2 separate regions of the Homo sapiens genome follow, and region 2 is linked to region 1. Evidence: fine-mapped expression QTL. A gene starts in region 1. The other region holds a variant in brackets. All regions are shown on one strand. Distances are between the middles of the regions. Region 1 holds the start of CEACAM4 (CEA cell adhesion molecule 4). Region 2 overlaps CEACAM7 (CEA cell adhesion molecule 7).

Evidence for each region. PIP is the estimated chance that this variant, and not a neighbour inherited with it, causes the effect. A credible set is the group of variants that fine-mapping cannot tell apart.
Region 2: its variant is the best candidate, but not a certain one, in a credible set for the expression of CEACAM4 in lung (TOPMed, PIP 0.52).

What each region holds. Positions count from the first base shown.
Region 1 is chr19:41,624,551-41,628,947 of GRCh38, reverse strand. CEACAM4 (CEA cell adhesion molecule 4) reads left to right here and starts at 1,874. Exons shown (of 7, transcript NM_001817.4): 1 at 1,874-2,048; 2 at 2,988-3,347. The coding sequence starts at 1,985.
Region 2 is chr19:41,675,790-41,680,186 of GRCh38, reverse strand. CEACAM7 (CEA cell adhesion molecule 7) reads left to right here. Exons shown (of 5, transcript NM_001291485.2): 4 at 2,684-2,811. The coding sequence ends at 2,775. Among named protein-coding and RNA genes, the nearest start is that of CEACAM7, 10 kb to the left of the region's middle. The variant T/C (reference allele first, on the strand shown) is at 2,006.

The sequences.
Region 1 (4,397 bases):
TACCCTAGTAGCATCGGGAGGGAATTCAGGGTCTTTCTAACAGTGAGGGGCAAACCCAATTCATTCCCTGACATCATTCACTGACATTCCCTCCAGGCTCTAACATATGTCTTTCTCACAAACACACCAAAACTGACACAAACTCCGGATATTCGATCCCAGGTGGATCTTCCACCAGGGCAGAATGACCACAAGAAAGTCAGGGAGTGATTCCCCAGCCTCGAGATCCCCAGTATTTGGGACATCTGCCTATGGTCCCTGCAGACATTTCACCAGGGGATCCAGGGGAACTTCTCCTGCAGGAGGGGACAGGATAACCCAGGATCTGCCTTTGTTTCCATCTCAGAGGGACTGAGGGTCACGGGGCCTCCCCTGCTCTAATACAGGAACCAGGTATCCCTTGCAGCCTGCAGGTAGGAGCTGCCCCAGCTCCTGGGCCCTGTGGAGAGGCCTGGGGCAGGTGACAGACAGGGACACAGATGACCTGGAGGCGGAACTCCCAGTGTTGTGATGGAGGAACACAGAACACACCGAGGACCACCTCCCAGGCCAGTGCCCTCTCTCTAAACCCCCAGAGACACCTCCCTGGGCCCTTCTTTTGAAACCTTGGGGACGGATGGCTCTTTCTGAGGCAGCCCATCCGCCTGCAGGACAGTTCTCCCAAATCAGGACCAGGAGTGCTCTGGACAACTCTCGTCCTCTCCCTGAGCTCATCCTGCACTGCATGGAGTTGGACATCCTGGGGACCCACAGTGAACAGGACCAAGGATGACCTGACCCTGCAGTCTGGAGGTCAGAGCCCACCTCTGCCCAGGGGCCAGGGCCAACTCATACCACGTGGACCCTGGTCAGCATCCCTGGGGAAGCCCCTGACTTTTACCACAGGGTTCCTCTTGCTCTCCAGGGGCAACATTGCACGCAGACAACACAGGAAATGGATTCCCCTGGACAGGAATCTGGCTTTGCTAAGGAGGTGGAGGTGAAGCCTGGTTTCCATACTTTGCTCCAGCAGGCCCTTCCAGTCCCTCCCATGTGCCTGCTCTGTCTCTCCTGATCCTTCCTGGAGCCTCTGAGGATCCTGCTCTGCCAGGATTCTCTGCTCAGTTCTCCACTTTCTCCTGGTATCATGCATGGGGAAGGTACAGTGACAACAGGACAATCACCTTCACAGAGGACAGAGGCCACCCGGGATGGTAAGGGAGAACATGCACAGGCCCTAAGCCACAGCTCAGCCAACAGAAACGGAGAGGGAGGATCTCCCTGAATCCCTCCTCAAGGACAGCAGAACCCAGAGCCACCCACCTCCCTCCACCACAGTCCTCTCTTCCCAGGACATGCAGGACACCTCCCTCCACATCCAGGAGCTGGGGATCCTCCTGAGACCCCCAGGCCTGGATCTCTGTCCCTGGGTCAGAGGCAAGGCTGGTGACACTGGAGAGAGAGGACTGGTCCCCCCCGTAGTCGCCCCCCATTTTCTATCCCACAGAGCCACCTCTGTCACCTTCCTGCTGGGTATCATCTCACACTCCCTGAGTATTGGGGAGCATGAGGAGACCTGGGGGCCCAGCTGGGTCTCTGTGTCACAAAAGGAAACAGTTCCCCAAGTTTGGGAGACCCCAGAGTACCTCTGTTTGTGGTGACATTCCCAAAGGGTCAGTGCAGGGGTGACAAGTCACCCTCTCTGGGGACAGGGGACTCCACCAACCCTGCTTCTCAAAGTGTGGTTAGGAAACTGTAATGTACACAGAAGAGAAAGGGGAAGGAGGGACAAAAAAGGCAGAAATGAGAGGGGAGGGGCAGAGGGGTGACCTGGGAAGAGCCCCGCCTCTGCCCCTGGCCCTGGGAAGTGCTTCTGCCCGGGAGGAGGCTCAGCACAGAAGGAGGAAGGTCAGCAGCCCCGACAGCCGACAGTCACAGCAGCTCTGACAAGAGCGTTCCTGGAGCCCAGCTCCTCTCCACAGAGGACAAGCAGGCAGCAGAGACCATGGGCCCCCCCTCAGCCGCTCCCCGTGGAGGGCACAGGCCCTGGCAGGGGCTCCTGATCACAGGTGAGGGGAGGACTCTCTGGGAGTGGTGGGAAGAGGGAGCACAGAGACTGACTGGGGTCTCTTGGGTAGGAGGGGATAGAGGGCTTCTGGCTGGGGTCTCCTGGGGCTCTGAGAGGGGACTGAGGGCCTCTGTTGGAGGCTGGATAAGGGAGAGAACATCAGAGAGGGGCAGGGGTCACAACAGGAAAATCTCAGTGAACTGGAATTGGTAAAAGGCAGGAAAATCTCAAGTGTTCTCTCGTCCTGGTTAATCATCACTGGCCACTACATTTTGAAAAATGATAATAACTATACCAGATGACACTTCAAATAAAAACATAACCAGGGCATAAAACACTGCTCTTAGCCAACAACCTCAGACACTGGGAAATAAACCTCAGGACTTGGAGGCCCTGAGAATGCTCATGAACTCATCTACAGGAGTCTGCAGCCTGTGCCAGGCACTGGGGTGCAACCAAGATCACACAAGTCCCCGCCCTCACAGAGCTCACGCTCTCATGGGGAGGAAGACAAACACCTAAAGAGATCTAGAATGTGAGGTCAGGTGCTGACAAGAGCCCTGGAGGGAACAGAGCTGGGAAAGGTCAGAAAGGGAAGACCCAGGGTCTCTAGAGGAGGTGTCAGGGGAGGGGTCTCCCAAAAACACCCTGATGTGAGCAGGATCTGAGGGCAGTGGGGAGGGAGCCGTGCAGACCCCTGGGGAAGAAGATTCCACCAGGGAAATGCCAAGGTCCAAGCTGTTGAAGGAATGGGGGTCATGCTGCTGACCCAGGGACACACACACACACACACACACACACACACACACACACACACACACACACACACACACACACTCCAAGGCTGAGGGATGAGGAGACCTGCTGAGGACCCAGGGCCTTATCTTTCCATCCCACTCCATAGGTCCCAGTATTGACTGATGCTGTCTTCACCTCCTAGCCTCACTTTTAACCTTCTGGCACCCGCCCACCACTGTCCAGTTCACTATTGAAGCCCTGCCGTCCAGTGCTGCAGAGGGAAAGGATGTTCTTCTACTGGCCTGCAATATTTCAGAAACTATTCAAGCCTATTATTGGCACAAGGGGAAAACGGCAGAAGGGAGCCCTCTCATTGCTGGTTATATAACAGACATTCAAGCAAATATCCCAGGGGCCGCATACAGTGGTCGAGAGACAGTATACCCCAATGGATCCCTGCTGTTCCAAAACATCACCCTGGAGGACGCAGGATCCTACACCCTACGAACCATAAATGCCAGTTACGACTCTGACCAAGCAACTGGCCAGCTCCACGTACACCGTGAGTGATTCCCCCATACCTCTGGGTGCTGGCGGTCAGTTCTGCTTCACACACATGAGATTGTCAGGCCTGGGCTGTGCCTGCATCCCCCTCTGCATTTTGTCCCGTGTTGAGATTTGGGCATTTAGTGCAGGACACACACATGGTAGGTAAACTTCAACAGATCAGAATTCCTTTCCTGCATCCAGGCCCTGCAGACACTGATGGCGGGGGCGGGGGGGCCTCAGCAGGGGGAGGTCAGTCTCAGCCAAGCACCCCATGCCCTCCCCATGAACCTGACCCTGAGAAAGACCCTGGAGAACTGGGTCAGGGCCTGGCCTGAGGGCGTCCTGGGAACCTCACAAAAGCCCAGCCTCAGGACTCCTGACTCCGTGTGACCCCGGGAAGCCTGTGTCAGGGCTGGGGTGTGGTCTCCTGGGCAGGGCTTACTGGGAGCAAGGATTTACCAGATGTCTGCGGGCTGTGGTTCCTGAAGCTTCTCATCAGTGAGGGCTCAGCTCCCAGAGTCTCATCTAGACAAGGACAGAGCCTACCACTTTCCCTGGGACTCAGCCTGGAGAGGGCAGGGGGACAGGATTACTAGGGCATTGGCCCCCTGAATGAGGAGCTTAAGAGATGCCCTTGGGCAGTCAGTGGCCCAGGGGTAGGAACAGAGGGGAGAAAATGTTCCTGGCAGCTTCTTGTCCACCGGGGATCATGCCCAGGGGTGCTCTCCCATGGAGGCAAATAACAGATGCTGTTGATGTGAACACCTCCTCTGTGCCAAGCTTCATGTCAGATCCTGTGAATAATTTAAAGTTCATTCACAGACAAAGTGGCAAGCCTCAGACCATTTTCCATTTACATATTGTATGGAGGGGAAACTGAGGCACAGAGAGATACAGACACCGGCCACGGTGGGCAGATCGCAGCTGGCAGAGTCACATGAGGGCTGTCTGCAGCTGCTGCCACGTCCTCTCCTTCATCCCTGGTGCCTTACTAGGTGTCTGTGGACCTCAGAACAGCCACTGGTTCGGATGTTTTCTTCTTAGGTGTCTACAGCTCGGAGGG
Region 2 (4,397 bases), 51 kb before region 1:
ATCAATTTTTTTCTTAATTTCTTTTCAGATTGTTCATTGTAAGTGCATAGGAATACAACTGTTTTTTGGCTGGATGCAACGGCTTACACATGTAATCCCAGCACTTTGGGAGGCTGAGGTGGTCAGATCATTTGGGGTCACAAGTTCGAGACCAGCCTGACCAATATGGTGAAACCCTGTCTCTACTAAAAAAAAAAAAAAAAAAAAAAAAAAAAAAATTAGCCAGGTGTGGTGGCACACGCCTGTAATTTCAACTACTTGGGAGGCTGAGGCAGGAGAATCATTTGAACTGGGGAGGCAGAGGTTGCAGTGAGCCGAGATCATGCTACTGCACTTCAGCTTGGGCAATAAAATGAGACTCTGTCTCAAAAAAAAAAAAAAAAAAGAGAGAGAGAGAGAAAGAGACAGAGAAAAAAGAAAAAAGAAATACAGCTGATTTCAACTGATTTTTGCATGTTGATTTAGTATCTTGCAGTTATACTGAATCTGTTTATTAGTTCTAAAATTTTGTTTTAATCTCTAGGGTTTTCTACATGTAAGTTCCTGTCATCTGCAAAGTTAATTTTACTTCTTTCTGATTTGGATGTTATTTTCTTTCTTCTTGCCTACTTTCTCTTACTAGAACTTTCAATACTACATAGAATAGAAGTGGTAAAACTAGGCATTCTTGTCTTGTTTTTATCTTAGAGGGAAAGCTTTCAGTCTTTCTCCCTGGAGTATGATGTTAGCGTTGGGCTTTTCAGATAATGCCTTTATTATATTTGAGGTAGTTTCCTTCTATTTATAATCTGAGTGTGTTTACTATGATAGAATGTTGAATTTTGACAAATGTTTTATTGGTTCAGTCTCCCTAGTAGTTATTAGTCTATTCAGATTTTCTGTTTCTTCATGGTTCCATTTGGAAGGTTTTATGTTTCTGGGAATTTATTTCATCCAGGTTCTCTAACTTGTTGGCATATAATTATTCATAATACTCATAACACTTACTATTTCTGTAAAATTGGTAGTAATCACTTTCATTTCTGATTTGAGTAATTTCTATCTTCTCATTTTTTTTCTTAGTCGATCTAATTAAAGGTTTTGAATTTTGTTGAACTTTTTTGAAGAACCACCTTTTGGTTTCATTGCTTTTCTCTATTGTTTTTCTAGTCCACTCTAATCTTTATTATTTCCTTCATTGGCTAACTTTGGGTTTCATTTGTTTTTCTCCTATATCCTTAAGTTGTAAAGCCAGGTTGTTGATTTCAGATCTTTCTTCTTTTTAAATGTATGTATTTATAGTTATACATTTCTTGCACAAGATTCTTAACTTCTCTGAGCCTTAGTTTCCACAACTGAAAATTGCAATAAGAGTGCCTGTTTCACAGTATTGTTTTGAAGATTTAATGTAATAATCAATGAAACATTCAGCAAAATGCCACATGCAGAGGAACTGTTTCATAAATGTTAGCTGCTGTTAAAGCTACCATTATTATTAGCCTTGAAGTCAGGTAGTCTTAGAGGCAAATCCTAGATCCGCCTGTCACTAGCTGTATGACATTGGGTAAGTTTTTTCACCACTCTAAGCCACCTCTATTTTCTACCTGACAGTATTATTTTACAGCTCAAATGAGATACATGTAAATAATTTAACACAGGGCCTGACACATAGGAAGCACCCCTCAACAGTAGCTAATATTAGTGATTATTAATCATCAGTCTGAGTTGACTGATGACTGATGAGAAATTAAGCCCAAATTATTGCAACAGAAATAAAGAAGAAACAGATGCAGAAGGTATTATATATACATGTGCATATATATATTCACATATATACACACATATACATATACATATACATATACATATACATATACATATACATATACATATACATGGGAGAAACAGGCATTACACAAAAAGTCCACTGGGACATGGTTACTGATTAATATGGGAGAGGGAAAAGAACAGAGTTAAATATGAAGTCTCAAGCCTAGTATGTTAGTTTTCATTCAGAGAGATGCAG[T/C]CAAGATGGGATTAGACATGCAATATAATTTTGAGGGAAAAACACCTGTGAGGGAAAGTGGGCTGGGAGGGGGAGGAGCCTGGGAGAGCCCTCAGATCATGATGCAGATGTGATGCCTGTGGAGGAGAAAGAGAAAAAAAAGAAAGTTTTAGATTGCAGTGCAGTTCGAAGAGAGTTTCTGCAAGACTGTTGGGAATTCCTCAAGCCCATCACCTTTCAGAGCAAAATAGTCTTGCAGAACTTGACTTGCTTTCACACACCTGCTGGGAGCCCATGGGAAGTGAGGTCTCTGTGCAAAGGAGGTGGTGAATTCAAAATGCACTAACTGCCACAACTGAGACACTAAGAAAAAAAATGCAACCATGAAAAAGTGGGAAGTTTTAATGACATACAAGATTAGCAATCAGTCTTTCTCAAATTTCAAAGCCTTCAAAAATATCTGAGTGTAAAAAGGTCAGGATGGAATTGACAGAAGACTGACCATCAACCTGGAAACCTGGTGAGATAAAAAACCTGCAAGAATTTAGTTGGATAATCATCTCCCAGCAACCTTCCCACAAAAATAATGTATTCCTTGAAGGAACAAATAGAAACGACTTCATGCTGAGAGTTGGTTCCTGGGGGACTTCCCTGTAAAATAAGATCAACTTCATTCCTTCTCTTTTCTTTCCATGGCAGATGAGTCAGTACAAGCAAGTTCACCTGACCTCTCAGCTGGGACCGCTGTCAGCATCATGATTGGAGTACTGGCTGGGATGGCTCTGATATAGCAGCCTTGGTGTAGTTTCTGCATTTCGGGAAGAGTGGTAGGTATTATGACCTTTCCTCTTATCCTATTTCCTGCAGGGCTGACTGCCATGCTTGGGAGAGGGAAAGGACTTCTTCACCTGTATCTGGGACTAGATCTCCTCCTCCTCCCACTAAACTCCTGCTTCTAAGCACTAATTCCTGCAGGTCTCTTCTTCCCTGGTCTTCATGCTTCCTGTACTCCACTGTCTCTTAGACATGACTACTCCCAGCCTCTGCTCATTTGTTTCCCCAATTCAATACATTGTGAAAGCTTCTTGGTCCTTTTTAAAACATCTTTCACTTGTGCTGTTCTCTCCATTCCCATAAACCTCAACAACTGCTTGAAGTCCTGCTTGACTTCTTTTCTCTAGTCTGAATGCTTCCTAGCATATGACTACTTCATTACCTTCCTAAAATCACCTACTGAAGAACCTGCAGCGGCCTACTCTAGCCCATTAGATAAGTTCACATTTCTTCTCTTCATGAATCCTTTTTACTTCCTTTACCACTACTCCTGAGTATAATTTCTCCATCCTAATTAGATCTGTCTTCCTATACATCCTGCCCTTCCACCCCATGTACACATAGAATTCTTAGTTCCAATGTTATATCTAAAAACAAGGTAACCTTCCTCCACCACCTGCATTGTGGAGTTACCCACACCCTTCATCACAAGCAACCTCTGTCCTTGTGGAGGACAAAGACGGTAGCATTAGTATGTGAACCTGAGACTCAGGACACAACCTAAACGTGGCTGAGAATCTTTTCCTGATAACCAATTCATGTGTTCATGAAAGATACAGAAATGAAGAAGGCAAGGTCCCTACTCCAGGGAACATAAAGCCTAAGACAGACGATAAGACAAAGGGCCAGGTGCATTGGCTCACAACTGTCATCCCAGTGCTTTGGGAAGCTGAGGTGGGAGGATCCTCTGAGCCCAAGAGTTCAAGGTTGGAGTGAGCTATGATTGTGCCTCTGCACTCCAACTTGGGCCACAGAGCAAGACCCTGTCTCCAAAAAATAAGACATGAAAAATAATTGTAATACCAAAATAGAAAAAGATAAATTCCACAAGAAGAAAGAGAAATCTAATGGGAAATATGGCTACACACTGGAATCACTGGAAAATTTTTAAAAGAACAACTGATTTCCAGGCTCTGCTCATACATTTTGATTTAATGGTCTAGAGTGGGACCAAGGCGTTATTATTTAAGCCTTCCCACATGCTACTAATGTGCAAGCAGGATGCAGAACCCCTGCTCTGATAAGCAGGACTTGGGCTTAAATCAATGGTTTGTAGCTAGGGGTATGTATCAAAATTACCTGGGGAACTTTTTCAACATACATAAGCTTATACATTGTTGGCCATATTTGTTAATGTACTATGCCCTGAACTCAGTAATCCAGTTGAGAAACAGAAGCGAGATGGAAATTCACCTTAATTGATATGTTAAATTATATGGAAAACACTGTCAAATGACAAGTGATGCCAAACCTTCTCTAAGTTATATTTGCGGGTATGTTATTGATGTGAATGTTTCAAAAATTATATGAGATTTCTAGAAATCTAATATTTTGTCAGTCATAGTGTTACATGCCACAG